Linked DNA regions of Homo sapiens. The protein of the gene in region 2 purifies or fractionates together with the protein of the main gene of each other region. This does not show direct contact. Each region holds a gene or a part of one and is shown on either strand. Other genes may lie near its edges. The genes, in order: B3GNT2, ITGB8, GINM1 and LMF1.

Region 1 (6,974 bases), on a different chromosome or scaffold from region 2:
AAGCCGAGTTCTCATGCAAGACACTGTGCCCAGGTCACAAGTGCACGATGACATTTAACCTTGATGGAAATGTGCAGTTGAGAATCTTGTTTTCTCCACCTTCCTCTTCAGATTGGCTTGAAAGAAATACCCTTTAGCAAGTAATGGGAAGAGTTGCCTCAAATTGAGCCTTTGGGAATCTGAAGTCTTTTACAAGAAAGGCTGATCTGTTTCCTGAGGTGGGGCTGGGAGCTTGTAGGTGCCCCCATTTCTCTTTCTTTGGAGCCTCTTTAACTATCAATGTACCATGATCCCGTGCCATAATCAGCCTGTGGGACTTCACTGTTGACCTGGTCCAGGTAACTAGAATGTGGTTGAGCCTCATAGAAAAAAGAGATCCAGAGAGTCCTGGATTGGGAGCCAGAAGGTGGTCTTGTCTAAGCCTTGTCACGTAACTCTTCCATAATATTCAGGCAAATCATCAGTCCCCTCTGAGCTTCCATTTTCTCCTGGTAAAGTGGCATCCCGTGCAATGAGAAATGAGCAGGAAAATGCCCTGCGGGCTGGAGGCCTTGAGCACTTAAATGAAAGTTGAGGGTGGTGTTCCCGGGAAGGCCATTCATTAGTCCCTGTGTCTTGAGCCAAGGTGATGTGAGAACTGTACCTTGACGTGGCCTTGATTGAGGAAATAAAAGGCTGAATTGTAGCAGATGAAGTTGGAAATCTTGCCAGGGGTCAGCAAGCTTATTCCTCAAAGCATCCTCAAAAGAAGGATTGGTGTTTTCCGTGATAGAGGCTTCAAGTGGTTATGGCTGGATTCCAGTTATTCATGGCCTCTCCCATAATCTAGATGTATAAACTTGTTAAATTATCTGGAGTCATTTTTACATGTTATTCACTCTGTATCTTTCCTAGGAGAATTAGCTCTGGAAGTTCACAGCCTCCTATGTAAAGTACTGTGCTTCCCTTTTTTCTTCCCTAAGCTGTCCTCTTTTACTCCAGAAATTTTGGTAAAGGTCTATTAATGTTTAAATCCCTTTACTGAGTTAAATTTTTGCCGGGTATTAAGCTGTTCATAGTATGTGCTGTTTTTTCCTGAGTAGTTTTGCTCTGTCACCCAGGCTGGAGTGCAGTGGCACGATCTCAGCTCACTGCAACCTCAGCCTCCCAAGTAGCTTGGACTACAGGAGTGCACCACCATGCCTTTTTTGTATTTTTAGTAGAGGCAGGGTTTTGCTGTGTTGGCCAGGCTGGTCTCAAACTCCTGGCCTCAAGTGATCTGCCCACCTCGGCCTACCAAAGCAAAGTGCTGGGTTTACAGGCGTGAGTCACTCTGCCTGGCCCCTTTGCAAATCTTTTTCTTCATTGTAGTTTTTCACCATCACACATTTCCTGTTGCCCTTCCTTCCAGACTAGGAAGGGCCTGAGACCTAGAGACAGCAGTACTGGGTCAAGGGCTCACTTTAGCATTAGGAGAATTGTCCCAAGTTAGAGAGAACCTTTTCTTTTTGAGAAGTATTTGAGAAATAACTGGAGTTATCACGGAAGTCTCCAAAGGTATGAGGTTAGGTTTTTCAAGAGTAGTTTTGTGGGCAGGGGACCAGGGAGTGGGTGCTGCTGATTGGCTGTGGATGCAATCAAAGCCATGTGCTGAGTCTGCAGGGGTTGGGGGGAGTCATGAGTCTCTAGTCTGGGTGGGGTAAGTCTGAGAAACATTCAGAAGACCAATCTTAGTTTCTATAATAGTGGTGTTAACTACAGGAGCACTTGGGGAAGTCAAAGATCTTGTGGCCTCTGGCCACATGACTTCTGAGCAATACGGGATTATAAAAACTGTGCTTACATTTTAGCAGAATTCAGGCCCCTCTCAATCCTAATCTTGTGACCTTTCATTAGCCTCAGCCCCCTGAACAAGGAAGGGATCAGTTTTATGGAGGGACTGTTACCATCTTTGCTTCGAAGTTAAACTGTAAACTAAATTTCTCCCGTGGTTAGCTTGGCCTATGCCCAGGAATGAGTGGAGACAGCTAGCCTGTGAGGGTAGACGCAAGATGGAGTCAGCCATGCTAGATTTCTTACTGTCCATAATCTTTGCAAAGGTGGTTTCAGCAGTAGTAAATACAAGCAACCAGATAAAGGTCTACTAGGCAGATCTTTACAGACACACAATAGCTTGTGAATTCCTGTTGATCTCATCTGGGCTCTCTAATATGTAATAGTTTTACAGCATTCTCAGCATGACAAATATTTTTCTACTTTACCGTTTGTTAGAATCCAGTGAACTTAAAAATCCTCTCCTTTCAAAAAGCAAATACTAGATTAAAATAGTTGCAAAGCTTTCTTTTAGGGATTGGAGAAGTGTAGCTACCTTTTGGCATGGTACAGACTTGGAATCTGTTTGCCTTGGCTGGTATTCCAGTCTGCCCTTCTTTAAATGTGTACCTCCTCAGGTATAAAATGGGAATGAGTAATAGTACCTAAGGATAAATTCCCAGTTGAATTAACCTGATAAGAAAATCTTCAGCTCTTTATAGAACATTGCCATCCCACTTTTTTGGGCTATCTTTTAATGTCACCTTGGTTTAAATGTTCATTCTTGTATAGGTCATCCATGTCAATAGTGTTAGAACCTTGGATATCCCCAGCAAACCATCTCATTACTCATTCTTTATTCTTCCATTGCCCACAGCCTGAAATCTTTTGATATTTCACTAAAATATCATTTGTATTTCCCTTTTTGCTACAAACAATAGAGATCTTAAATATACACTTCAGGTTTGACATATGCATACATCCGTGGAGCCTTCATCAGGATCAAGACCTACATGGTACATTTCTGTACCCCAGGAAGTTCCTTCCTATCCTTCTCTAAGCCCACCACCTCCATCACTTTCAGATTTCTAGAACCTAAATTCATTTTGCCTGTTCTTGAAGTTAATATAAATGAAAATTTGGGTCTGGCCTTCATTCACAATGTAATGTTGTAATGTTTCATCCACAATAGTTTCCCTTTCTATTGCCGAGGGGATATACCATTGTATGCAGATGCCACAGTTTGATCATCTGTTCTGTTGATATTGGGCTGTTGCCAGTTCTTGGCTATTGGGATAAAGCTGTCCTGAGTCTGCTTTCATTTTCTCTGTCTGAGATGCTCTGTGGTTCCTGTCTCCTGCTTCCTAGCCCTGCAACCTTGGGCAAGTGTCTTAATCTCTCTGCTTTGGTTTCCTTATCTGTAAAATGGTAGGTTGGAAAATAACTCAGGGTTGGGACTAACATTAAAAAAAAGAGAGAGAGATAGGGTCAGACATGCCTATAATCCCAGCACTTTGGGAGGCTGAGGTGGGAGGATCACCTTAGGTTGGGAGTTTGAGCCCAGCCTGAGCAACGTAACCAGTCCCTGTTTCTACATTTTAAAATCTCAAAGTTTTTCAAATGAAATAGAAGAGAACTTGAGAGTGAATGACATGGAACTGCACACAATGCGTCACACATGTAAATAGAGTTTTGTGTATGTATGTGTATACTAAACACAGTATAAAAATGTATTTGTTATAATTTAGGCAAATCGGTTTGCCAAGCACTGTATGTGCCATTGTAAGCAAGGAAGTTGAACTCTCCTGAGGTTATTTAGTAATAGGTATTTCTAGCTTCAGCATGTCTCAAACAGTCACTTACATAGTGCTTGCTGTGAGCCACGCGCTATTTTAAAAGCTTTCCATATAACATCATATACTCACAACCATCCTTTGAAGTGGGCTTGATTCCCATTTTATATATGGAGAAGTTGAGACAGGGACTATCCCACTTGCCCATGATCACAAAGCTAGAAAGGAAGGGCCAAGATTTGAACCTAGGCAGTGCAAGTGTAGAGTCTTTGCTGTAAACCACTATTCCTGGGGAGACAGGTAAAATAAATTGTATGTGCAAATGCAAATTGATAAGTAATTGATACAATACTCCACCCCTTTATTCCAGATATGAGAAATGAGTGTTGGACGTCGAAGAATAAAGTTGTTGGGTATCCTGATGATGGCAAATGTCTTCATTTATTTTATTATGGAAGTCTCCAAAAGCAGTAGCCAAGAAAAAAATGGAAAAGGGGAAGTAATAATACCCAAAGAGAAGTTCTGGAAGATATCTACCCCTCCCGAGGCATACTGGAACCGAGAGCAAGAGAAGCTGAACCGGCAGTACAACCCCATCCTGAGCATGCTGACCAACCAGACGGGGGAGGCGGGCAGGCTCTCCAATATAAGCCATCTGAACTACTGCGAACCTGACCTGAGGGTCACGTCGGTGGTTACGGGTTTTAACAACTTGCCGGACAGATTTAAAGACTTTCTGCTGTATTTGAGATGCCGCAATTATTCACTGCTTATAGATCAGCCGGATAAGTGTGCAAAGAAACCTTTCTTGTTGCTGGCGATTAAGTCCCTCACTCCACATTTTGCCAGAAGGCAAGCAATCCGGGAATCCTGGGGCCAAGAAAGCAACGCAGGGAACCAAACGGTGGTGCGAGTCTTCCTGCTGGGCCAGACACCCCCAGAGGACAACCACCCCGACCTTTCAGATATGCTGAAATTTGAGAGTGAGAAGCACCAAGACATTCTTATGTGGAACTACAGAGACACTTTCTTCAACTTGTCTCTGAAGGAAGTGCTGTTTCTCAGGTGGGTAAGTACTTCCTGCCCAGACACTGAGTTTGTTTTCAAGGGCGATGACGATGTTTTTGTGAACACCCATCACATCCTGAATTACTTGAATAGTTTATCCAAGACCAAAGCCAAAGATCTCTTCATAGGTGATGTGATCCACAATGCTGGACCTCATCGGGATAAGAAGCTGAAGTACTACATCCCAGAAGTTGTTTACTCTGGCCTCTACCCACCCTATGCAGGGGGAGGGGGGTTCCTCTACTCCGGCCACCTGGCCCTGAGGCTGTACCATATCACTGACCAGGTCCATCTCTACCCCATTGATGACGTTTATACTGGAATGTGCCTTCAGAAACTCGGCCTCGTTCCAGAGAAACACAAAGGCTTCAGGACATTTGATATCGAGGAGAAAAACAAAAATAACATCTGCTCCTATGTAGATCTGATGTTAGTACATAGTAGAAAACCTCAAGAGATGATTGATATTTGGTCTCAGTTGCAGAGTGCTCATTTAAAATGCTAAAATAGATACAAACTCAATTTTGCATAGAAAGGTGTATTTTGAATAGTTCCCATGTTGTGTTCTCACATTAGAGTAATTTCTATATTAAACCATGAAAATTGCCTTTATGAGTGATACCCATTTGAGGGCCTCTAAACCCTTCAATTTGGTACTCACGTGAAGAGGGAAAGCGGAAGATGGTAATTTTTTTTTATGGATGATATGGCAGGATGATTGGTTCTGATCTTACCGGCTAGTGGTCATTTTTAAAAAACTTGTACCCTCTTATCTGAAATCCTGTTTCTGGAATTTGGCCATTTTAAGTGATTTTGTTTGCCCTCTTCTATAATATTCCTACTTCCCATAATAATGACTGATTTATTTGTAATTCAGGTATTTATAAACCTATTGGCTACAAAGACTTTGTTAAACATTATCCAGTGGTTTTCGTGAAATGGAATTATGTTTATTTTTATGGGATTTGGGTAAATTTTAAATTGTCTAGAAAACTGAAATTTCAGTTGTCAGTTGTGGAATTCAGTTTTTCAATTGTGGAAATTTCCTGCCACCCCAACAGTATTTTTGTGTGTTAATTAATTTTGCAAAATGAGAATCATGGTGTGACACTCATCTAATTTATCTTGTTGTGATGTTATGGTCATAATAAGGAGAAAGAGGGTTTAATTTTTCTTGTATTTGGTTTCCTGGTGGTATCATAGTGTAATTTTAGTATTTGAAAATCAGTGTGATTCCTTAATGGCCAACTGAAGATTGAATTGCCGCTAACAACCATATCGTGTTAGTGAATTTTCAATATGGACCAGGAAGGCATATGTATTTTGAACTTGAGTGAAAAGGTTGAAGTTACAGACTTTTGCATAGATGGTTTGTCAATTTAAAATTCCAGAATTTATTATTGCCATATTTTCACATGCTGCTTATACAAGATTATTATTGAGTAGTAACTGCTTCCCTGTCTATGTAGAAGTGCCTGTGTTTTTATTTATTGTTCAGATCAAAGACCAAAACATTTTCTTAAATATATTTTATGTAATATTTTATTTGTATACAGTGTTGTTGATGAAATATTTAACTAGAGCATGATATTTTAAATGTTAAGGTGTAACATATGTTAAATAAAACTGTTATTTTTGAATTTTAAAATTTGTTTTTTGGGGGTATGAACTACTAGAGTTTAAAATTCTGCCAAACTATTACTTATATGTACTATTGTGTAACATACTTTCTTGAAATATTTTTGTTTATAGAATTGAAGGTTCTTATCAGATGGGATACTGGGGACTATAAACAATGGAAATAAAGCCACTGTATTTTTAATTTTTTGTGTAATGTGTAATCTATAATCCTTTTGTTTCCCATATTTGAGAACATTTTTCCCTGAAAGAGGCCAGTTTCCTCCCCAGAAACCATTACAGTAGTGTTGAACTATCACTGTCTCTCAGTGCGTCATCCATCTTTGCATTTAAAATCCCCAAAGTGCTTTCCCATTTAAAGTCTTTAAAGAAAAGTGAGAATATTTATTTATGCTTCCATTTTCAGTGAGTATAAATAATTTAATTAGGGAGTGGTGTGGCATTGTAAAGATTGTGTTATCCTAAGCCATTTCTATTTTGGAGTTTGTAGCCACAAAGATGAAATATAGAATCAGCCTTGACTACTCAATTTCCTTTCATAGACCCATGTTGAGAAGACACTACTAACGTCCAGTGGGAAACAAGTAGACAATTGATGAAGCTCAAAAAACAGAAGGGTTAGTGTTGTAAGAGCAAACAGTCTAATCCTGTTTGGAATGTGGAAGCCATTTCTGAGCAAGTATG
Region 2 (7,212 bases):
TGCACATATCACTTCCTCCTCCATCCCACTGGCCAACATTAAGTTCTGTAGCTGCATTCAGCTACAAAGGAGTCTGGGGGTCTCAACTGTGTGCTCTGCTGCAACTCAGGAGTTAGGTTCTATTACTAAAGAAGAAAGGAAGAAATGGGTCAAATAACACTCAATAAAAAAATCAGGATTCTAAACTTGAAAGACTGCAGTCAAACACAATTGAGATGAGTTCTCAAAACTAAAGGCCTTGTGAAACCTGCCAGTAAGTGTCCATCTGGTCTCTTTAGCACAGACCTTCTATCGAAAAGTACTGTATTAGTTTTCACACTGCTGATACACCCATATCCAAGACTGGGCAATTTACAAAAATAAAGAGGTTTATTGGATTTACAAGTTCCACATAACTGGGGAGACCTCACAATCATAGCAGAAGGTGAAAGACACACTTCACGTGGTGGCAGACAAGAAAAGAGTTTGTGCAGGGAAACTCCTCTTTTTCAAACCTTCAAATTTCATGAGACTTATTCACTATCACAAGAATAGCACTGGAAAGATCTGCCCCCATGATTCAATTACCTTCCACGGGTCCCTCCCACAACATATGGGAATTCAAGATGAGATTTGGGTGGAGACACAGCCAAACCATACCAGGTGCATTACACTTTATCTTTTCCTTCAAACTATTAAAAGCTCCTTAAGAACAGCTAATCTGTCTAAATGTCTTATTTCATTTTTAATATATCTATCTGTTGGGAGCAGGCCCCAAAATCTGGCCATAAACTGGCCCCAAAACTGGCCATAAACAAAATTTCTGCAGCACTGTGACATGCTCTTGATGGCCTTGATGCCCATGCTGGAAGGTTGTCAGTTTACCAGAATGAGGGCAAGGAACACCTGGCCCACCCAGGGTGGAAAACTGCTTAAACGCGTTCTTAAACTGCAAACAATAGCATGAGCGATCTGTGCCTTAAGGACATGTTCATGCTACAGATAACTAGCCAGACCCATCCCTTTATTTCTGCCCATCCCTTTATTTCCCGTAAGGAATGCTTTTAGTAAATCTTATGACTGGCTTGCTGTCAATAAATATGTGGGTAAATCTCTGTTTGGGGCTCTCAGCTCTGAAGGCTGTGAGACCCGATTTCCCACTCCACACTCTGTATTTCTGTGTGAGTGTCTTTAATTCCTCTGGCGCCGCTGGGTTAGGGTCTCCACGACTGAGCTGATCTCAGTATCTACCACATTCTGCTTTATTCTCTTCTCTAGGGTAAGAAAAATCACAATACATGGGTATTCAATAAAATTCAATTAATTTAAGCCTGACTCTTGAGAATGTGCAATTGAAGGTTATGAATGTGTCACACCTAAGGTGGTGGTAGAAGTCTCTGGCACATGGAAAATGCCTGTTTTAACTTTTAGCTATTTTTTTCAGGTTTTTGTCATTAGAATATTTCTTCTGTTTCTACTGCAAATAACTATCAAAAAGGAAAAGAACAACTAGGATGGCCTCCCCTGTTTATCATTGGCCCTACAATTTTCTAGGAGTAATATCTTTTTGGAATTATGTAATGTCCTCTGCTAATGACAGTGTATAGATGCTATTACATTTCCTTGGGGGACAAAGTACTGTTGTCTGGAAGCTTTGAGATTAATGTAACACAAAGTAAATAAGGAAGCGTTTTGCATATTCTTAGATTTTTACATTTTTATTTTAAAACAGAGAATTTCATATTGATTAACACCTACTACTAAACAGAATGATGCATTAATTAAATGCCTTGTCCTAACTGTTATAAGCTCTGTTAGAAAAATAAACATCTCACCACAAACTACAGTGTCAGCTCTTTAATAAATACATAAAACAGAAGTTAGTAGTCAATCAGAGTTATATGAACAGGTTCATAGTATATTATGTGAAAGTATCATATTCTCCAATATTCTGTATCATTTAAGACAATTTAAGTTACGTATAATTCAAAGCCAGAAATAATAAGAAATATGTTCAGTGATAATTTGCTTCTTTCTTAGAGCTATTTTATATTCAAATATTTAATTTAAAAATATATTCTATATTAAATTTATTTTTACAAACGCAGTATTCGTTAGGTGAAACAAAATAAGTTTTTATGTTACTGATAAGTTTAATACATTTCTAATTTTTTTCAGAAGTTCAAGAAACCATAATGAAGTAGCTAATGTAAAATAGTTTAAAAGCTATGTTAAATATACACAAAATGAATTTCTATATTAATATGTGCAAATGTATATTTTCTTATAATTTAGAATTAAAGTACTTTATACTCAATATTCTTAATAAAATTTATGTACCATACTTGTCATTGCGTAGACTTCTTATCAAAATTTCACATTTATCTGTAGGAAAATGTAAAGTTGGTAAAAATTGTTTACACAAATCACACATTTTCCATCCTTGACAATTGCAGTGTTTTTTTTTTAAATATTGCTGTATTAGACAATTTTAACTGAAGTAGGTTGTAGAGGCTAGAAACCTGATTAATAGAGCAGTATTAGACAATTCTAACTGAAGTAGGTTGCAGAGGCTAGAAGAAACCTGATTAATAGAGTTAGCTTACAAAGATAAATTTTATGCAGAAAAGTATTCCAGGTAGATAAAAGAGTAGTGTTATTACTCTCAGGTTTACATTAACAGCTGCCCAGATAGCTGAACAATTATTTCATATAATTCAAATAATTTAAATATGCAGTTTTATAACAGTCGTTACATAAGCTTGAAGTTAAAGTGATCAGAGCCAAGGGGGAAAAACCCACAAATGATAAAGAAGAATAAAAAGTAAGAGGACTCTAGAAGAAAGTTGTTTTTCACAGCACTGATTGTTTTTATCATATTTTTCTCCTGCCATTGATACAAGACATGTAAGATGCTGCAAAACCTAACTATGACAGTTCCATGTAATATTTTTCCAGTTAATTTTGTTTAAAAGTGAGATGATAATATAAAAGGATCTCATATAATAGAATAAAAATAATAAAAATTTGTTAATGAAACGTAGACATACCTACCCATTCTTGTTAGTTAAGTTAGGGTTTGCTGAAATCATTCGCACTCACGTAAAGTATAAATGGGGACCTGAAAGAGCTTTTGTAAACTCAAGATATGCGGGATCTGAGCTGATAATCAGTTAGGCTCCATGTTGAGTTGTGCGTGACTCAGTTGTCCTTAAATTTCGCCTTCATATTTTGTCATAAATGGGCTCTCAAATCTTTATAAGAAAACAAAATTTGCCTAGATGCATAAACATTTAGGTAAAGTTGGATTAGTGTAATATTTATTCAAGCATAATTTTAAACACTGCATCTGAAGTGCCAACAGTTGCAAGAAATGTCACAATTTCAGAGATGTTAAATTGAAAAAGTGATGTCTTGGAATCAATGAAATATAAATATGGATATGTATAATCAGTTATACATAAAAATTTGCTATAGAGGAATTATAAAAGAAAAGGAAAATTATTTGAAAGAATGTTAGCTATATCTCAGTGGTCTGCATTGCATAAAATGGAGTTCTTGAGGTCAATATAAATAAGGATAGTTGTAAATTAAATATTGAGTCAACATAACAGAATGCAATCTGCACATGATTGAGCTCCCATGTAACTATATTTCACTTGATACTTTTATGAAAACATATATATTCCAAATCCTTCAAAATGAAAAGAAGCTCAAACAGTTGTGAAAATTTAGAATTCTTAGATTTTAATGGGTCTGTCTTTGTTCAGGGGCAAAGACTCAAATGAGCTTTAAGATCAATTAAAGATGTCTGGAAATGAAGAACTTCATTATACCATTAAATTCAGTTATTTTTCACTATTAGGCTTATTAAGCTTGAAGCTTTAGGAAATCTCTTGGGAAGAGTGAGTGGAAAAAACAGGAGTAAGAAAAGGAAGAAAAAGCCTTTGAGTCTAATCTACTCTACCAGGTTCCAGGAAGAATATAATTCTACAGAGAAAATTCTTCATAATCTATCATAATATATTTCAGTGTCTGATGGCTGACTCTTGTCTTGCATAAAGATATCTTCAGTGGATATTAAGTAAATATTAAAAATATATTTCAGATTCATTCTTTGAAGGATTGCATCTCATGCATCCACAAATTTTAATGTTGAGTTTTGGAAAATTGCCTCCAGAGATATCTACTGTGTTTAATCTTAGATTTTTTTTTTATTTTAATAAACCAAAGATAAACTGAACATTTAAGACATAATCAGATTTTTAGTGAATTTTTAAGTCCTCCAGAAAAGTCTATGACTTAATAAATATTAGCAAGTTTCCAAAAATATAACAAATGTTTATAAATACGTGTGCACTGCAGTGCAATGGTGTCCCCAGAGAAATAAAATGCATAACAAAGCAAATGTTATGTTGTAGTGTATGTATGGCACATTTATAAATCATTACATACTTTAGGGCACAAAAATGCTGCAGTACTAAAAGTGTTGTTCAAGTTCTCAATTCTGTTAACAATTTAAAATTTCATTAATTGTGTTTAATATCAATGAATCTCAAAAGGCTCCTGTGGCCATATTAGTTGAAAATAGACTCTATTTGCATACATTATTTAACCTAAGAGTACCCTGTGTTCCCTTACCATTTAATTAATTCTAACTAGTCAAATATTAATTCTCATCTCACAAATCATTACACAGGAAGATATCAATTATTCAAGTAAAATACAAGCCCTACAATCTTTAAAAATTAGCTTTTTAAGTAAAAACAAAAAAGATAAGCACAAGACTTTGCAAGCATAACCACAATCATCGTCTAACACTGAGTTGCCTACAAGGAAGTTTGTCCCTTCCTATGGTAACAGCCTTGGTCCACTATAAAGTTAGTGCAAACAAGTGAGGGTATAAAAAAAATATAAACTCTGGATTTTTAAGGATTTCATTTTGTTATACTCTTTTTGGATAATTCATTCCATACGGAAATTTGTTTATTGTTCATAAATATCATAATGTTCATTTCAAAAATTGTCATCATCTTAATGGCTATCTTACACTTTTTTCTTTTGGAGGGTTGTCAGGCATCCATCCATTTTCCTTTTTAAGAAGAACGTTATGTGTATTAGGCTACTAAACCCAATTTTTACATTATTTTTAGTGATCAAAGGTTTCTTATACAAGTGACTCACAGTACTGAATTATGTCAATCTCTCATTTGAGGAAGGAAATGCAGTTCAAGTTAGCATTGAAAGTGCTTGGCTGTAGAGGACATCTAACAGAGCTGCTGTGTTTATTGGCTCCAGAACAACTTATTATAGGTTTTTCAGTTCTCTTTAGGGTAGAATATGAGATGGGGTTAGTCTTCATCAAAATGCAGTATCTAGTACTTTAACTCAAGTGCTGGAAGACAGCAAATCTTGGAAGTTTATTATAAAAAAAAAGATATTTCGGATAGATTCCTTTGTTGTCATGGGCAAAACTGTATATCCACACAGGACTGTTAGACTCCTAGCCAATAAAATCAGACTAAGTCCATAGGGATAAGGTAAGTGTAAATAAATTTCCATTGGGGAAGACAGGGCTCATGGCCCGTGTATCAAGGTCTCAAGCTGAGCACTGGAGAACTCCAGGGAACACTGTTCATACAGGCTATGGTGCGAAGGAATTCCCCTGTAGGTATGCCATACTTCAGTCTCTTAAGAAGCTGATTAGCATGAAAGACTGGAAGCTGATTATGGACAATTCAGTTTGAATTATTCCTTTCTATTTTGCTTTGAACTTTCCTCATACACTTAAGACATGAGTAAATCACATTGAAAAACATTTGCCAATTGAATATTTTAAAGATTCAAGAGGTAGCATGATATTGTGCAATGAACACTGGCCTGACAATGAGAAGATAAAAACTCCTTTCCAATGTGGCCACTTTATCACTTGAGTGTTTTCTGAGAAATCGTTTAAGTTTTCTGAGGCTCAGTTCCCTAACTCACTAAAAAGGAGAATTAGCAGCCTGGCATGGTGGCTCATGCCTGTAATCCCAACACTCTGGGAGGCCGAGGAGGGTAGATCACCTGAGGTCAGGAGTTTGAGATCAACCTGTCCAACATGGCAAAACCCCGTCTCTACTAAAAATACAAAAATTAGCTGGGCACGGTGGTGGATGCCTGTAATCCCAGCTACTCAGGAGGCTGAGGCAGGAGAACTGCTTGAACCCGGGAGGCAGAGGTTGCAGTGAACCCTAATTGCGCCATTGCACTTCAGCCTGGGTGACAAGAGTGAAACTCCGTCTCAAAAAAAAAAAAAAAAAAAAAAAAAGCTTATTTCTAAGATATCATCTATTCTCCAATTTTGTACTTTTATGAATTCTGGCAAGAAGGGTTGGAGTGATTCTGGGAAAGAACATCCTTAGGCTGCCTTGAAGGGAGAAGATAATATAGCTTTTCATTTAAAAAATGCTGATATCTACTTGCAATCAAAATCTAAGAAAACATTCAAAATGTGGTACTTTGCTTGAGGCAGAATTTCTAACTATCTTGTGAATTAATGATAAGATAAATGAAATGGCCAAACAATCCCTTCAGTTTACCAGGTAAGAGGATACAAAACTCCACACTTGTGCACAATGAAGCTATTCAGGTTTTGATGATACTTTACAGTGTCCCCTATTAACATTCAGCTTTTAAAACTAGTATTCTGATAAAGTGACATTGTATTATTAGTTTTTTATGGCAGTAGTAACTTAGCACTTAATTAATCCAGTCATCTGTGACATACATAAACTTATCCTGTAAAAAAGAAAACAAAACATAAAGGCAAAGAGGAGAGAATGCTGGAATTAGTATCCATCTTGCAAAAATAAGCAAACCATAAACACACATGCATAAAACTACACACTTTAAAAAGCAATAATCTTTTAAGATTAAGGTTGTATCTGTTCACCTCTTGAAAGAGTGAAACACGAATCATTTATTCATCTAGCTGTTCTTGTCTATTCAACCACCAACTGTTGAAGTGTTTGGCAACCTTAGAATATACTTGCCAGATTATTTTTTTCCTCACATGTCCAGTGCAGGGATTACTGTACCCTTGTAGTGACACAATGCTAAACTCTCTCACAGCATTGTTCTCTCTGGGAAGCGTAGGGATAACAGGTACCTGTAAAGTGTAATCAGTGCTCTTCAGAGGATCTACATTCTATGCTGATCTAAATAAGTTATATATTACAGTAAAGTGCTACA
Region 3 (9,740 bases), on a different chromosome or scaffold from region 2:
GGAATAATTTGTGAAAGAGGATTCATACCACACAAGACCAACATCATACATTTAGGGTGACTTTGGTTCACTTCCCAACTAGGAGCCTAGGAAGCTTTCTAACTAGAAATTCCTCAGAACTAGCCAGCTTTTTCCTGGCTCACCTTGATCTAGACGGTTAGAACCAATAGTGCATCTAAAACAAATCCACATTCAATGAGCTATGAGATTGATAGCTACATTGTTTTGTGTCCAAATTCAAGTCATATGGATCTCCTTTGCAAACTAGAGAATGTATTAATTATAAACTATTATTCTTCTAACAGCCCAGAAGTAAGCCTCCAATGTTGTTCTAGGAAACCATTTTATAGCTTCTGCCTTTTAGCAGTGAACACTATATTGTTAGCAAGTTACTGAACTTTATATATATATATATATATATATATATATATATATATATATATATATATATATATATATATAAAACCTACCTAGTAAAATTACAGAGTTTGAAAAAGACAATTAACAGACACAAGCACACTATATTTTCCAGAGAACCAAGTACAACAAAATTATTTTCTGGTCTTTCTGAATGATTTCACTGCAAAAGGGAATCACACTCCTTACTGCCCCCTGGCCAGGAGTTCAGAGCCAGGTCATATTTATTGTTCTTGAGAACTTCTGATTGAACTGGAAGTTCAGGCTCGTAAGCCAGGGTTGCATATACTTAAAAAGTGCTTGGGGACACTGAAAAGTTTCTCCCTAAAAATCTTCAATTCTTCTAATTCCTTTACTCATAGGATGCCCACTGGGGACATAAGTGTCTTCCTAAGAATAAAGGTAATAGACAGCTGGTTTAAAATACGTCTGAGCGAAATATACAGTTATGCATACAAGAAAGTAAGTGTCCTCCGAATGCCTCTCTTTGGTGACCAAGTTATTTTAGTATTAGAAGAATTTACTATAAAGACTTTTATTTTTCGGTCGGGCATGGTGGCTCATGCCTGTAATCCTAGCACTTTGGGAGGCTGAGGCGGGTGGATCACCTGAGGTCAGGAGTTTGAGACCAGCTAGCCAACATGGTGAAACCCCGTCTCTACTAAAAATACAAAAATTAGCCAGGCATGGTGGCACGTGCCTGTAATCCCAGCTATCTGGGAGGCTGAGGCAGGAGAATCGCTGGAACCCGGGAGGCAGAGGCTGCAGTGAGCCGAGATTGCACCACTGCACTGTGCAGGATGGGGGACAGAGCGAGACTTCACGTCAAAAAAAAAAAAAAAAAGTGACCGGGCGCAGTGGCTCACACCTGTAATCCCAGCACTTTGGAAGGCTGAGGCGGGTGGATCACTTGAGGTCAGGAGTTCGAGACCAACCTAGCCAACATGGTGAAACCCCATCTCTACTAAAAATATAAAAAAATTAGCTGGGCGCAGTGGCGGGAGCCTGTAATCCCAGCTACTTGGGAAGCTGAGGCAGGAGAATCACTTGAACCTGAACCCAGGAGGCAGAAGTTGCAGTGAGCCGAGATCATGCCAGTGCACTCCAGCCTGGGAGACAGAGTGAGACTCTCTCTCAAAAATAAAAAACAAAAAATAAAAAAATAAAAATAAAAATACAAAAACTAGCCAGGTGTGGTGGCACGCGCCAGTAGTACCAGCTACTCAGGAGGCTGAGATAGGAGAATCACTTGAACCTGGGAGGCAGAGGCTGCAGTGAGCCGAGATCATGCCACTGCACTCCAGCCTGTGTGAGACAGAGCGAGATATTCCGTCTCAAAAAAAAAAAGACTTTTATTTTTCAATCTTATGTGCAATCTTGTATTACCTCAACTTCTGACAACTGCATACATAAAAACAGAAAAATGCTTATAGTCCAATAAATCTGAGTCATCGGAAGAAGGCAGAATTTTCCTGACTTCAACCAGTTTAATTTATATCAGACTGGAAACGAGGATGGACAGATGTGATAAAGCTAGTAATGTTAAGGGTAGTCTGGTTCTGCACTGTTCAATATGGTACACACTAATCACTTGTGACTATTTACATTTACATTGATTAAAATTAAATAAAAATTTAAAAACAGTTCCTCACTGGCACTGGCCACATTTCAAGTGCTCAGTGGCCACAGCAGTCTAGTGGCTACCCACAAGGTGAGAAAAGACATAACCATCAAGGCAGAAAGTTCTACTGGACAGCACTTACACAATATGTGGGACCACTGTGAAATTCTTTCCTATTGGAAATGTTTCACAATAAGACGTTGAGAAGACTTAGATCAAGGGACTTCAGTTTCCCACAGACACAGTCCAGGTAATGAGATTCTCTTTCTAGTTGTTCAGCACTCATTTAATCTGTGAAACTTTTTGTTGTTGAGACAGGCTCTTGCTATGTTAACCAGGCTTATCATCCAACACCCAACTCTTGGTCTCAGGCAATCCTCTGGCTTTGGATTCCCAGTAGCTGGGATTACAGGCGTGAGCCACTGCACCCAGCGTAATATGTGAATTTCCGAGTTTAGATCTGGACTTTCTGAAAGTGAAATGAAGGCCCAAGAAGGGAGAACTGAAATAGTAAAATCATCACTAAGAGCCAGCCGACAATGCAGTGTATTTTAAGCCTGCAGTCAAAATGTATTTTTCGCAGATTATATAGACGTAAACATCTCATTGACACATAGGTGTCAATTATGAATCTTTAAAACTTGAAAAATAGGAAAATAATGTCCGTATTTCCAGAACTTTTTAGAACTATTTCACTTTTATTTGGTCCCTTGGTGCCTGTCCATCACATTCCTATTGTTTAACCAGATGCAACTGTGGTCCACATATAATTTCAGATATAGGTGGTTCTTATGGCAGGCAATGTCGTGGCTTCTTGGAATGCCCTGCAGAACTGAGACATGCTCATCATTTTTGTACCCACGTGGGGTAATGTCATTATCCTAAAACGTTAACACTTGGTTTTTTTGTTTTTGTTTGTTTGTTTTGTTTTGAGCTCCCTCACCCAGGCTGGAATGCAGTGGCACGATCTCGGCTCACTGCAACCTCTGCCTCCCGGGTTCAAGCAATTCTCCTGTCTCCGCCTCCCGAGTAGCTGGGACTACAGGCACCTGCAACCACGCCCAGCTAATTTTTCTATTTTTAGTAGAGACGGGGTTTCACCTTGTTGGTCAAAGTGACACTTACCGTGCCCTTCGCCTTTGTATTTAGAGTGTTCATATTCAAGTCTTGACTAGGAAGAGGTGTACCGACATAGTTTCTTGTCATTCTCAGAACACTTGCTCTTTAAAATATTCAAACTTTTCCCTACCATTCTACTGAAAAAAGGCTGATACTGGCCTAGGTAGGCACGACTCTACGGCAGGAATGGTGAGCATCAGCCACGTTTTAATGTTAGGATGCCTCGATTCTCCCACCTCAGCTGGCATCAGAAGCACCTGCAGGACTCTCCAACCCGGACTGCTGGGCCCCGCCCCCAGAGGCCGGGCTGAGTCCCCAGGGGATGCGGACACCGCCGATCGCGCCCCGCCGTGAGAACTTCTCCTCCAACATCCGACAAAAACATTACGTCGCGCGAGGGCCAGGTCTCTCCCTCTGCCCACCTGAGCCCGGCGGAGCCCCGCAGCCTCGGAACGGCGGACCCTCGCGATCGCAGGCCGAGCAGGCACAAGTGGCCTGGAAATGCGCGAAGTGGGCAACTTCCACACTTCCCGAGCACACAAACATTCCTTGCCCAAGCGCTGGCTCTACCCCGGGAAGGCGCCATTACGAAGGCCTGATCACCGGCAACCGCGCGCTTCGACGGCAAAGCCCCGTCAGGTCGCGCGCCGGCTTGGGCCGCCGGAGAGTCGGTGTGGAGTGGCTCGAGGCTCACTCACAGCGACGCAGCCCCAGTGGGTCCCTTTCCTCTTACCTCGGCCTCCCACGCCGCCCCCATTTCCTGGGGTGCTTCTCCCCACACCTCCTTCGGGGGCCCGGACCCCCGCCCCTGCCCGCCGGTGGGATGTGGGAAGCGTCACTGTGGACAGCCCGGGCCTCCCGGAGAGTCGGAGTCGTAAAGCGGCCAGCCAGGCCCGCCCTGCCCTACCTGTGGGGCTCCGGACAGCGGCGGCGGCTCGGGGGCGCCCGTCGTCAGCCAGCCGGAGGCGGGTAGCGCCACGAACAGCAGGAGCCGGAGGGCGAGCGACCCCGGTGGAGCGCCCTCCATCTTGGACAACCCGGGCAGAGGGCAGCCGCGGCCGGGAGGTGAGGGCGGAGCCGGCCCGCGGGCGGGACGGAGCTTCGGCGGGAGGGACGGGGAGGGGCGGGGAGAGACGGGGAGGGGCGGGACGGGCCCTCCCCTCCCCGGGCGGCCGCGGAGAGGCGCGGGGACGCTCCGAGATCCGGCTCGCCAGGGAAAGGCGTTTGCGCACGCGCAGCGCCGCGCGGCGTCGAGGGGCGGAGTGAAATCTTGGAAGGTACGGCCCCTCATTAGACCCGCCCTCAGGATTGGACAGGACTCCAACTGGAGCGATGTAAATGTCCTCGTAACCATTATTTTTAAAATTAGTATTTACACACATGCATGTGTCTGTGTGTGCACATGTACATGTACCTATACGATGAAAACAACGGTAATATTTCAGAAAACTGTTATACATTAAAAATGAAACATCGCATTTACAGGGGAAGTTTTTATTAAGTGGGTAATTCCCCACCCTTGGCTGCACGTGGGACTCTCCCGGGCAGCTTTAAAAAGTACTGGGGTCTTCCTGAACACCCCACTTTCCAGCCTGGGCTGCGGCTCGGGCCCTGGTGGTTTTTTAATTTTCTCGGGTGATTCATTGTGGGGCCAAGGTTGAGGATGCGCCATGCTTACTGTTCAGCATTCTGCCGACCCCTGGAGGCGGCGCGGGGACAGCGCTCAGCTGGAAGGAAGCCAGCGCACCTGGGCTGTCAGTGCCTTTTTGGTCAGTATCGTAACTCTAAAGTGAAAGTGTTAGACTTTTCTTCCACCTTGCAGATTTAAAAAAAAAAAAAAGTTACGGAACCCTGTAAAGCAGAGTAGCAAGAAATTCAAGCATTTTAGATTAACAGGATTGCATGTTGATTGAGAAAAACTTGGAAACTTGGCCATTCAGGCAGAATAAGAGTAATATTTAGTCTTCCTTTGAAATAAAACTTTTGACATGAAATAAAACTTTTGACATGAAAAAGGAAACAAGAATCTATTTCTCTCTTTGAGCCCCCTTTACTCCTTTGAACACCCTCCTCCCACAGGCCTGCTGACCGCCACCGCCCCCTCCCCCGGCCCCGCCCCAGAATAAATTATAAACGTTTTGGCTAAAGACTCCTTTCAACTAACTCCGGGCTTACTCTGAGATTCCCCACGCCATTGTTAAGCTACAAGTGATTTCACAGCGAAGCCCCACACACTTCTGGGTTCCATCTGCAAACTTGGCCTTTTCCTTTTTTTCCTACTGCTGGAATTAAAAATGAATTTGGAGATGGGCGTGGTCATTTGTGCCTGTACTCCCAGCTATGCAGCAAACGCAGGCAGGAGGATCGCCTGAGTCTATTAAAAAAAAAAAAAAAAAAAGGAATCTAGAAGCCGGGTGCAGTGGCTCACGCCTGTAATCCCAACACTTTAGGAGGCCGAGGCGGGTGGATCACTTGAGGTCAGGAGTTCGAGAATAGCCTGGCCAACATGGTGAAACCCCATCTCTACTAAAAATACAAAAATTATCCAGGCATACTGGCACGCACCTGTAATTCCAGCTACTAGGGAGGCTGAGGCAGGAGAATCGCTTGAACCCAGGAGGCGAAGGTTGCAGTGAGCCAAGATCGCGCCATTGCACTCCAGCCTGCGCGGTGGAGCGAGACTCCGTCTCCAAAAAAAAAAAAAAGAATCTGGAAGTCAGAAAACATGACATGTGGATCTGTATAATTTGAATTAGTAATATAAGGTTACAAAGTACGTCTATATGAAAAGATAATAGGTAAAGTTGAGGCTCTCTGTTTTCTTACAAAGCCTTTCCCATGGTCTAACTGTCCATTATTCTTTATTGTTTATCTGTCTCGTCAGATAGATGTGAGCTCCAGGAAGAGGGTGGCCAAACCTTAAAGCAAACAGCTTGCTAGAGTAAGCCCTCAGTGGGGGTTTGTTGGACAAATAATGTCTAAGTGGTTGACAGTATTATTTAATAATCAAAAATTTTACTGTTTTGTATGAAATGGTTCTCTTTAGGCCATTGTTTTGCTACATGCACCCATGAGCGCTACGGAATTTCATTTAAAAAACCCCATCATTTGGGGAAAAAGCACCATACCACAACTCTAATGAGTTACAACAAAACTTTAAACAAGCTTTGTGGCTGAGTTCCACTTGTCCATTGGAAAACTCAGCTTGGTTTACTGAGCCTTCACATTAATCTGAGAAACAAAAGACAGAATTAACTTGGCAGTTGCTTACACGACAAATAAATCTGTCAATGTTAATACGGTGAGTACTTTGATGTTCCTTTGAGTCAGCTCATGTCAACTTGATATCCTCTATCATAAAAAGAGTTCAAGTTGCCTGACAGCAACCCACTGCGGTTCTGTGCACATTAGATGCTTTCTCTTCTTTGAAGGTAATCTTTCATATAGGAGAAGATATTCTAAAATATTTCTAATACTACAGAAAACAAAGTATATATTAAAATGTCTTTATTCTTTCACCAGATAATACCTTTTGATTCCAAACCTTGATATATTTCCTTTTTCAGTAGCCGATTTCATTGTCATTTTCATCATTCCCACAATCAAAATTTGAGTCCATCTTTTTCTGCAATTTAAAGCAGGCTTGATGCCAAAAGGAAATCTGGGACCTGATTTGTATCTGTTTCCAGTTTCTGGGAGTGAGTGAGTCACTGCACTTCTATTACAACACAGTCTACTCCAGTATTTTCCAGAGTTAGTCATCTACATATTTTTGAACTTTTTGAAAGACCCCTAGAAGATGACAAGAGGGAGAGCAAGAAACAAAGATATTATATTTTATTTTTTTGAGACAGGGTCTTGCTTTGACACCCAGGCTGGAGTGCCATGGCAAGATAGATCATGGCTCACTGCAGCCTTGACCTCCTGAGCTGAAGCCATCTTCCTACCTCAGACTCCTGAGTAGCTGGGACTGTAGGCACATGCCCCCATGCCCTGCTAATTTTTTTTTTTAAGTGAAGACGAGGGCTTGCTAGCTTGCCCAGGTTGGTCTTGAATTCCTGAGCTGAAGCAATCCTCCTGCCTCGGCCTTCCAAAATGTTGGGATTACAGGCATGAGCCACTTTTTTTTTTTTTTTTTTTTTTTGAGACAAGAGTTTCATTCTTGTCACCAAGGCTAGGGTGCAATGGCACAATCTCAGCTCACGCAACCTCCTCCTCCCAGGTTCAAGCGATTCTCCTGCCTCAACCTCCCAAGTAGCTGGGATAACAGGTGCCCACCACCACGCCCAGCTAATTTTTGTATTTTTAATAGAGACGGAGTTTCACCACGTTGGCCAGGCTGGTCTCAAACTCCTGAACTCAGGTGATCCACCTGCCTCGGCCTCCCAAAGTGCTGGGATTACAGTCATGAGCCACTGTGCCTGGCCTAAAATATTTTAAAACTGCTTTTGCTGTAACTTTCTTGTCCATATATTTATGAATGAATTTAATTAGCTCATAATGATGGGTGATGCCTCTCATATGAAGAACAACTCATAGAAATATTATCATTGTAGTAGCCAGCATTTATTATGCTAATTGTGTTAAGTGCTTTATGTATATTATTTAAACCTTATAACAGCCTAATGACATGATTACAATTTATTATCCCATTTTTATATACAAAACAGAAATTTATAGAAATTAAGTGTTTTTCTCTGAGTTACAGAACAGTAAATGATGAAGCTGTGGTTTTAAACTCTGGCATTCTAAGCCAACACAGTATAATGAAACAAAAGGCATTTAGTTAATTTATATACATTTATAGAGATGATTATAAATTATTCTACTCATTAGCTTTCTAAAAATATGAGCTGGGTTGCACTTTGGGAGGTGGAGGCAGGCGGATCACCTGAGGTCGGGAGTTCGAGGCCAGCCGGGAGTTCAAGAAACCCCGTCTCTATTAACAACACAAAAATTAGCTGGGCGTGGTGGCGCATGCCTGTAATCCCAGGTACTCAGGAGGCTGGGGCGGGAGAATTGCTTGAACCCGGGAGGCAGAGGTTGCGGTGAGCCGAGATCGCGCCATTGCACTCCAGCCTGGGCAACAAGAGTGAAACTTCGTCTTAAAAAAAAAAAAAAAAAATATATATATATATATATATATATATATATATATATATATATATATATATATATAAGCTGTGTTGGGAGAAATGGAGAAACAGTAAAGTGTAAGAGAGCTATGCCTTCTCCACCATCACAGGAGCTAGAGGGGCTCCAGGGCCAAGATGCAGACCCTGCTCTCTGCTCCCTCAGCTAACTAGTTTCAACAACCTGAAAATCTGCAGAGACGTTTGTACTCAAGGATGCTAAAAATCATACTATAATTTAATATTTGGTACCCTAATAAAAATCCTGAAGATAAAAGATTAAAGGGCCGGGCGCGGTGGCTCACCCCTGTAATCCCAGAACTTTGGGAGGCTGAGGCAGGCGGATCACGAGGTCAGGAGGTCGAGACCATGCTGGCTAACACGGTGAAACCCTGTCTTTACTAAAAATACAAAAAATTAGCCGGGCGTGGTGGCAGGCGCCTGTAGTCCCAGCTACTCGGGAGGCTGAGGCAGGAGAATGGCATGAACTCGGGAGGCAGAGCTTGCAGTGAGCCGAGATCTAGCCACTGTACTCCAGCCTGGGCGACACAGCGAGACTCCGCCTTGAAAAAAAAAAAAAAAAGATTAAAATAAGTATCCTAAGGAATAAGAAATCTTATCAGGTTTCAGGTTTTAAAAAATAGAACATCTGTAACAGATACTGCAAGAAGAGTTTGTTTAGAGATCATTTCATATTCAGTAACCCAGATAAGTAGGTTATATTTGTGGTAAGATGCCATTTTCATTTGTCTTATTTGACTTTTTTTTTTTTTTCTGAGATGGAGTCTTGCTCTGTCACCCAGGCTGGAGTGCAGTGGCACGATCTCAGCGCACTGCAACCTCCAACTCCCGGGTTCAAGCAATTCTCCTGCCTCAGCCTCCCGACTAGCTGGGATTACAGGTGCCTGCCACCACACCTGGCTAATTTTTGTATTTTTAGTAGAGACGGGGTTTCACCATGTTGGCCAGGCTGGTCTTGAACTCCTGACCATGTCATGATCCACCTGCCTCAGCCTCCCAAAGTGCTGGGATTACAGGTGTGAGCCACCGTGCCCAGCCTTATTTGACTTTTTAAATCACCTTTAGAAATGAAAGAAGCCTCCACTTGGAAGCAGAAGCAGAGTGTAGGGTGTCTTTCCTCTGCCTTCAGTGGATTTCCCTCTTGGGAGTGGATTTTCTTCTTTTAAGTCAGGATTCACTTTATTTAATTCACTAGAATATAAAAGCCTCACTTTATCATTGTTTACCTCAGTTGGTGCTAAAATGACAGGCAACTTCATAGCCATATGTATTAACTGTATTTGCCTATTTTCTGTATTCTTGATGTTACGGCACCTGGGGCCTTGCTGGCCCTGGAGACACTGCTGCTCCGAGGGTTAGCTAATTCCTAGAAATCGCAAACTACTTCCCTGGGCACCTCTGGGAGTTTACATCTCATATACAACACAGCC
Region 4 (8,857 bases), on a different chromosome or scaffold from region 2:
AAACCAGCCTCCTACACGTTCACACAGACACGGACCCCACACCAGCCTCCTACACGTCCACACAGACACCCACCCCAAACCAGCCTCCTGCACGTCCACACAGACACCCCAAACCAGCCTCCTACATATCCACACAGACACCCCAAACCAGCCTCCTACATATCCACACAGACACCCCAAACCAGCCTCCTACACGTCCACACAGACACCCACTCCAAACCAGCCTCCTACACGTCCACACAGACACCCCAAACCAGCCTCCTACATGTCCACACAGACACCCACCCCAAACCAGCCTCCTACATGTCCACACAGACACCCACCCCAAACCAGCCTCCTACATGTCCACACAGACACCCACCCCAAACCAGCCTCCTACATGTCCACACAGACACCCACCCCAAACCAGCCTCCTACATGTCCACACAGACACCCACCCCAAACCAGCCTCCTACACGTCCACACAGACACCCCAAACCAGCCTCCTACACGTCCACACAGACACCCACCCCAAACCAGCTTCCTACACGTCCACACAGACACCCACCCCAAACCAGCCTCCTACATGTCCACACAGACACCCCAAACCAGCCTCCTACACGTCCACACAGACACCCACCCCAAACCAGCCTCCTACACGTCCACACAGACACAGACCCACTGCTTCTGCCTCCCTTTCCCCATCCCTCTGGCTCCAGTAAGCTGGCAACGCAGTCCTTTAAGTAAGGAAGAGCTACTGCAAAGAGGTGGGGTTTTAATCCTGAAGATGGGTGGCTGCTGTGGCTGGTGCACTGGCCGCTCTGCCATGGCCTAAGTAAAATGACAATACCCTCCTGAAGGAATTTAAGATAAACGCTCGTCCAGTCTTTCCAAGTGCCAGGACACCTGCAGTGCCTGTGCTGAGTGACAGCAAGCCCTAAGCTCCGACCGCCCCATTCCTGCTACTCACCAGACATGGCCCACATTAACCAGGGACATGTAGAGGCCCCACAGGGCAGCCATGAGAAGCATGTTGGCGCAGCCCGTGATCAGTACGAAAGACGAGATGCCCAGTCCGAGAAGAGCCAGCAAGTCCAGGTTGGAGTTCATGTCTGACCAGTCCATCAGCCAGAGGATGGTGGGCATGTAGCTGAAGACTTCCCAGCTCGTCCTGTCCTGGAAGTACTGCTGGAAGTTCTTCAGGAACACTCTGCAGGGAAGCAGCCCCCTGTCACCGATGAGCTGCTTGTTCTGATGGAAAGCCACCAGGAATGCCACGACTGGAAGAAAAAGAAGACAAAACAAGCATGACTAGGAACAAACCACATGTGGACACCATGGGCGCAGCTCAGAATGCGGGGCGAGGCAGGCGGGAAGGGGAGGCAGAGTCTGGCTGACGGTTTGGGGCCAAACCCTAGACTCAGGAGTCTGAGTACTTTCTCAAGATTTTGGGGGAAACACTGGAAAAGCCAACCTGCAGCAGACGCGGTGTGTGCATACACGCATACACATCTAAGTGAACTAGACACGTTACATAAAATGCGTGCCCGCAGCAGACGCGGTGTGTGCATCCACACACACACATATCTAAGTGAACCAGACACGTTACATAAAATGCGTGCCTGCAGCAGATGCGGTGTGTGCATACACACACACACATCTAAGTAAACTAGACACGTTACATAAAATGCGTGCCCGCAGCAGACGCGGTGTGTGCACACACACACACACATCTAAGTAAACTAGACAAGTTACATAAAATGCGTGCCTGCAGCAGACGCAGTGTGTGCATACACACACACACATCTAAGTAAACTAGACAAGTTACATAAAAGGCGTGCCTGCAGCAGACGTGGTGTGTGCATACACACACACACATCTAAGTAAACTAGACAAGTTACATAAAAGGCGTGCCTGCAGCAGACGCGGTGTGTGCATACACACACACACATCTAAGTGAACCCGACCCGTTACATAAAATGCGTGCCCGCAGCAGACGCGGTGTGTGCATACACGCACACACATGTAAGTGAACCAGACACGTTACATAAAATGCGTGCCTGCAGCAGACGCGGTGTGTGCATACACACACACACACATCTAAGTAAACTAGACACGTTACATAAAATGCGTGCCCGCAGCAGACGCAGTGTGTGCATACACGCACACACATCTAAGTGAACCAGACACGTTACATAAAATGGGTGCCTGCAGCAGACGCAGTGTGTGCATCCACGCATACGCATAGAAGCAAACTAGATGCTTGTATATAAATTCCGTGTCTGCAGCAGATGCAGTGTGTATACACGCACACACATAGAAGTAAAGTAGACATGTGTATATAAATTGCGTGCCTGGCTACACACAGACAGCCAGCTGACCAACCGGACTGCACTCAGCATTCACCATTATGAAACACACCCTGAGGACCCTGGCTCTGGTCAACGGCATCACTCCCAGCACACGCTGCAGGGCTTGACACTTACTGCCTATAGGTGAGCCACACTTGCCCTCTACGCAGACCACAGGTCTCCGAGTTCACGTCTCACGGCGCCCACCCCACGACGGCTCTCTCACATCCACAGGTCTCCGAGTTCACGTCTCACGGCGCCCACCCCACGACGGCTCTCTCACATCCACAGGTCTCTGAGTTCACGTCTCACGGCGCCCACCGCACGACGGCTCTCTCACATCCACAGGTCTCCGAGTTCATGTCTCACGGCGCCCACCCCACAATGGCACTGTCACATCCACAGGTCTCCGAGTTCATGTCTCACGGCGCCCACCCCACGACGGCTCTCTCACATCCACAGGTCTCCGAGTTCACGTCCCACGGCGCCCACCCCACGACGGCTCTCTCACATCCACAGGTCTCCGAGTTCATGTCCCACGGCGCCCACCCACAACAGCTCTCTCACATCCTCTGGACGTCAGTATTTGTAGAACACTGAATGCTTACCCAGAGATGCTGACAGGTGAGAGAAGCACATTCCCATGTGTAAACGTGAAGAATGAAAAAGCAGTTGAAAGTAAAAAAGATACACCATTCAAATGTGAATCAAAAGAAAGCTGGATCTAATTCATCATGGCTGAAAAAAATTAAAAATAAAAATAAAAAATACAAACAAAAGAAAGTGGAAGTGGCTCTATTAACATCATAAAAAGTAGATTTAAGGGCTGGGCAGGGTGGCTCACGCCTGTAATCCCAGCACTTTGGGAGGCCAAGGCAGGCGGATCACCTGAGATCAGGAGTTTGAGACCAGCCTGGGCAACATGGAAAAACCCTGTCTCTACTAAAAATACAAAAATTAGCTGGGCGTTGTGGCAGGCACCTGTAATCCAAGCTACTCAGGAGGCTGAGGCAGGAGAATGGCTTGAACCTGGGAGGTGGAGGGTGCAGTGAGCCAAGATTGCGCCACTGCACTCCAGCCTGGACGACAAGAGCAAAACTCCATCTCAAAAAAAAAAAAAAAAAGTAGATTTAAGGGTCGGGCACGGTGGCTCACGCCTGTAATTCCAGCACTTTGGGAGGCTGAGGCGGGTGGATCACCTGAGGTCAGGAGTTTGGGACCAGCCTGGCCAATATGGCAAAACCCTGTCTCTACTTAAAAAATACAAAAATTAGTCGGATGTGGTGGTGCACCCCGGTAGTCCCACCTACTTGGGAGGCTGAGGCAGGAGAATCACTTGAACCCGGGAGGCTGCAGTGAGCCGAGATGGCACCATTGCACTCCAGCCTGGGCAACAGAGACTCCATCTCAAAAGGAAAAAAATCAATTTACAAACAAGGAATGACACAGGGATGAAAGAAGATATTGCATAATGATAACAATATCACAAGAGCAACCCCACAAGTACATGCGGCTTCCTACTGCGTGTAGGAATCTGGCTTGGGGTCCATGTCTGTGTAACTGTGCATGCTGGTTTGGAGTGAGTGTCTGTGTAGACATGTAGGAAGCTAGTACATGTACTTTTCCCCATGCATTTATAAATCTAAAAACATATAAACGGAATCTGCACATGGAAAACTACAAAACACTGATTAAAAAAATGAAACAAGATCTAACTATATGAAGAGATAGACCATGTTCATGGATTGGAAAAATCAAAATCATTAAGGTGTCAATTTGATCCATAAATTCGGCACAATCTGAACCAAACACCCAGTCAGTGCTTCCGCCGAGGCTGACAAGCTGATTCTAGAATATACATGGGAGAGCAAAGGGATTAAAAAGCCAAAATCATCTGGAAAAGAACAGAGGTGGAGGACTCATGTTACCCAATTTCAAGACTTACTAAAAAGCTAATCAAGACCACATCAAGACAGCGCAGTATTGATTAAGGAAGAGCCGCAGAACTCAATGGAATGGAAGAGACGGCCCAGACACAGCCCCCCTGCCCCCGACCCGACACACAGAGTGAACAAATTCTGACAAAGGTTCAAAGGCAACTACACAGACAAAGAGCAGCCTTGGGCCGGGCGTGGTGGCTCACACCTGTCATCCCAGCACTTTGGGAGGCTGAGGCAGGAGGATCGCTTGAGCCCAGGAATTCCAGAGCAGCCTGGGCAACATAGTGAGACTCAGTCTCTACAAAATAAATAAAAAAACAAAGAAGAGTCTCTGTAACAATCATGTTGGAACAGATGGATGTCCACATGCAAAAAGATGGACCTGAACACACTTCACACCTTACACAAAAATTAACCAAAAAGGATCATAGACCTAAATGTAAAACATAAAAGCATAAGACTTCCAGATGGAAATATAGAAGAAAATCTATGTGACTTGGGTTTGGCAACAAGTTTTTAGATACAACACCAAAAGCATAATCTATGAAATTAGAAACTGTAAATTGAACTTTATCAAACTGAAAAACTTTTGATCTGCAAAAGCTACTTTTAACAGAATGAAAACACAAGCCGCAGATTGGAAGAAAATACTGGCAAATCACACATCTGATAAAGGATTTGTATCTAGAATATTTAAAGAACTTTTAAAATTCAATAATTAGAAAACAAACAACCCAATGTTAAAGGTGGGAAGAAAAAACCAGGCCACAAGGTCTGAACAGACATAGGAAGGTGTACGGATGGCAAATAACACGTGAAAAGATGCTCAACATCCTTCATCACTGCGGAAATGCCCATGAAAACCACAGCGTGCTGTCACCACACACACGTCACATGGCCGAAGTGCTTGAAAACGGACAGTGCCCAGGCCGGGCGCGGTGGCTCATGCCTGTAATCCCAGCGCTTTGGGAGGCCGAGGTGGGCAGATCACCTGAGGTCAGGAGTTCAAGACCAGCCTGGCCAATGTGGTGAAACCCCGTCTCTACTAAAAATACAAAAATTAGCTGGGCATAGTGGTGCACACCTGGAATCCCAGCTACTCGCAAGGCTGAGGCAGGAGAATTGCTTGAACCCAGGAGGCGGAGGTTGGAGTGAGCCGACACAGCGCCACTGCACTCCAGCCTCGGCGACAGAGTAAGACTGTCTCAAAAAAAAAACCAAAAAAACAAAACAAAAAAAACACGAACATGGACAGTGCCCAATGCTGCAGAAGGTTCGGGACAGCAGGAGTGCCCTCGCTGTGCCGGGGATGCTGTGGCCTACCACTGTGGATGGCAGACGGTGGCATCTGACCCAGATAATGAAGGGTTACCTTACAAATCAGCTACTGCACCTCTCAGGCCTTCAACCTGAAAGTGTGCTCGCACAGAAGCCTCATGCAGATGCTCATAGCAGCTCTGTTCATAGCCACTAAAAACTAGAAACAAGGAAGACATCCTTCACGGTGGAAGTGGATAAATAACCGGAGGTGCATTTGTGCAACAGAAAAATAATCAGAGATAAGAATGCAGCTGTTGGTTCAGGCAATAACATGGATGAATCTTAAGTGCATTTTGCTAAGCAAAAGAATCTAGACCCAACAGGCTATATACTGCGTGATTTCATTCGTATGTCACACTGGAAAAGGCAAAACCAGAGGGACGGGAGACAGACCCGGGCGTGCCAGGGGCTGGTGCAGGGGAAGTGGTCACTCCCATGCACGGGGGACTTGGGGCTGGAGCTGGGGTGATGGAGGCAAAGCCCACAGCACTGAGCATTACACGAGATGAACTTCAATGTGCACAAACTATTGGGGGAAGACCCGACCAGGAGGTTGGGGGATGCAGATAGAATACAGGCTCCACACGCACGGATGTGAAACAGAAACACACTGGCCAGAGGGCAGGAGCCGCCTAAGCAACTCCGGAAAATGTTCTGAGTGGAGACCGCAAGGCCAGAAGGAGCTGTACACAAACGCTGCACTCCAGGGCTTTCCCCCCCGGGCCTGGGTGGACAATTCTCGCACGTGCACCAGGGCTGAGCAGATGCTAGAGGAGTCAGGGGAGCCAGGTTCCCACTAGCAGAGAGGGAGGATTCAGATGGGCCAGCAGGGAAGACTGGAATACACCGTGTGCCAGGACGGGAGGATGGAATACACCATGTTCCAGGACGGAAGGCTGGAATACACCGTGTGCCAGGTGAGAGTCAGAGTCATCGGCATGGACCAGGTTGACCTTCGTATACTTACAGATGGATAGGTGGATACGACAGAGAAGCAATCAAATGTGTGAAATGAGATAGTGACACACAGAGCCTAGCTCTACCCAGGAAGAGGGCCAGCAGCTGTGACACCCCGGGAGCAACGGCCCTCCCAGTGCCCAGACTGAAGTTTCTATGCTCCCCTAAAAAGAACCAGGGCTCCTTGGAAACAACTCATTCTAGGGCTGGGGCAGAGAAACAGAAGCTGGGCCGGAAGCATCCCTGCGGGGAAGGAGGGGAAACCCACCAGTGGTCAAAGCTGGAGGAGCTGAGCAGCAAACTCACAGTGACAGCACTGGATCATAACCCAGACAAAGACTCACAGTGACAACACTGGATCACAACCCAGACACAGACTCACGGTGACAGCACGGGATCACGACCCAGACACAGACTCACGGTGACAGCACGGGATCACGACCCAGACACAGACTCACGGTGACAGCACGGGATCACGACCCAGACACAGACTCACGGTGACAGCACGGGATCACGACCCAGACACAGACTCACGGTGACAACACTGGATCACAACCCAGACACCATCTCATGGTGACAACACGGGATCACGACCCAGACACAGACTCACGGTGACAGCACGGGATCACGACCCAGACACAGACTCACGGTGACAACACGGGATCACGACCCAGACAGACTCACGGTGACAGCACGGGATCACGACCCAGACACAGACTCACGGTGACAGCACGGGATCACGACCCAGACACAGACTCACGGTGACAGCACGGGATCACGACCCAGACAGACTCACGGTGACAGCACGGGATCACGACCCAGACACAGACTCACGGTGACAGCACGGGATCACGACCCAGACACAGACTCACGGTGACAGCACGGGATCACGACCCAGACACAGACTCACGGTGACAACACGGGATCACGACCCAGACAGACTCACGGTGACAGCACGGGATCACGACCCAGACACAGACTCACGGTGACAGCACGGGATCACGACCCAGACACAGACTCACGGTGACAGCACGGGATCACGACCCAGACAGACTCACGGTGACAGCACGGGATCACGACCCAGACACAGACTCACGGTGACAGCACGGGATCACGACCCAGACACAGACTCACGGTGACAGCACGGGATCACGACCCAGACAGACTCACGGTGACAGCACGGGATCACGACCCAGACAGACTCACGGTGACAGCACGGGATCACGACCCAGACACAGACTCACGGTGACAGCACGGGATCACGACCCAGACACAGACTCACGGTGACAGCACGGGATCACGACCCAGACACAGACTCACGGTGACAGCACGGGATCACGACCCAGACAGACTCACGGTGACAGCACGGGATCACGACCCAGACACAGACTCACGGTGACAGCACGGGATCACGACCCAGACACAGACTCACGGTGACAGCACGGGATCACGACCCAGACACAGACTCACGGTGACAGCACGGGATCACGACCCAGACACAGACTCACGGTGACAGCACGGGATCACGACCCAGACACAGACTCACGGTGACAGCACGGGATCACGACCCAGACACAGACTCACGGTGACAGCACGGGATCACGACCCAGACAGACTCACGGTGACAGCACGGGATCACGACCCAGACACAGACTCACGGTGACAGCACGGGATCACGACCCAGACACAGACTCACGGTGACAGCACGGGATCACGACCCAGACACAGACTCACGGTGACAGCACGGGATCACGACCCAGACACAGACTCACGGTGACAGCACGGGATCACGACCCAGACACAGACTCACGGTGACAGCACGGGATCACGACCCAGACACAGACTCACGGTGACAGCACGGGATCACGACCCAGACAGACTCACGGTGACAGCACGGGATCACGACCCAGACACAGACTCACGGTGACAGCACGGGATCACGACCCAGACACAGACTCACGGTGACAGCACGGGATCACGACCCAGACACAGACTCACGGTGACAGCACGGGATCACGACCCAGACACAGACTCACGGTGACAGCACGGGATCACCACCCAGACAGACTCACGGTGACAGCACGGGATCACGACCCAGACACAGACTCACGGTGACAGCACGGGATCACGACCCAGACACAGACTCACGGTGACAGCACGGGATCACGACCCAGACACAGACTCACGGTGACAGCACGGGATCACGACCCAGACACAGACTCACGGTGACAGCACGGGATCACGACCCAGACACAGACTCACGGTGACAGCATGGGATCACGACCCAGACACAGACTCACGGTGACAGCA

Evidence for each region.
Region 1: the proteins of ITGB8 (region 2) and B3GNT2 purify together in Homo sapiens (affinity purification with mass spectrometry; 2 studies listed by BioGRID and IntAct, with this or other methods). This does not show direct contact.
Region 3: the proteins of ITGB8 (region 2) and GINM1 purify together in Homo sapiens (affinity purification with mass spectrometry; 3 studies listed by BioGRID and IntAct, with this or other methods). This does not show direct contact.
Region 4: the proteins of ITGB8 (region 2) and LMF1 purify together in Homo sapiens (affinity purification with mass spectrometry; 3 studies listed by BioGRID and IntAct, with this or other methods). This does not show direct contact.

What each region holds. Positions count from the first base shown.
Region 1 is NC_000002.12:62,218,258-62,225,231, forward strand, and holds the end of B3GNT2 (N-acetyllactosaminide beta-1,3-N-acetylglucosaminyltransferase 2), read left to right. Parts: intron 1-3,954; 5' UTR 3,955-3,963; coding exon 3,964-5,157; 3' UTR 5,158-6,474; downstream 6,475-6,974. UniProt on the Homo sapiens protein: Beta-1,3-N-acetylglucosaminyltransferase involved in the synthesis of poly-N-acetyllactosamine. Catalyzes the initiation and elongation of poly-N-acetyllactosamine chains. Shows a marked preference for Gal(beta1-4)Glc(NAc)-based acceptors.
Region 2 is NC_000007.14:20,410,224-20,417,435, reverse strand, and holds the end of ITGB8 (integrin beta-8 precursor), read right to left. Parts: 3' UTR 1,682-7,212; downstream 1-1,681. UniProt on the Homo sapiens protein: Integrin alpha-V:beta-8 (ITGAV:ITGB8) is a receptor for fibronectin. It recognizes the sequence R-G-D in its ligands.
Region 3 is NC_000006.12:149,560,859-149,570,598, reverse strand, and holds the start of GINM1 (glycoprotein integral membrane protein 1 precursor), read right to left. Parts: upstream 4,225-9,740; 5' UTR 4,185-4,224; coding exon 4,065-4,184; intron 1-4,064.
Region 4 is NC_000016.10:953,408-962,264, forward strand, and holds part of LMF1 (lipase maturation factor 1), read right to left. Parts: intron 1,260-8,857; coding exon 950-1,259; intron 1-949. UniProt on the Homo sapiens protein: Involved in the maturation of specific proteins in the endoplasmic reticulum. Required for maturation and transport of active lipoprotein lipase (LPL) through the secretory pathway. Each LMF1 molecule chaperones 50 or more molecules of LPL.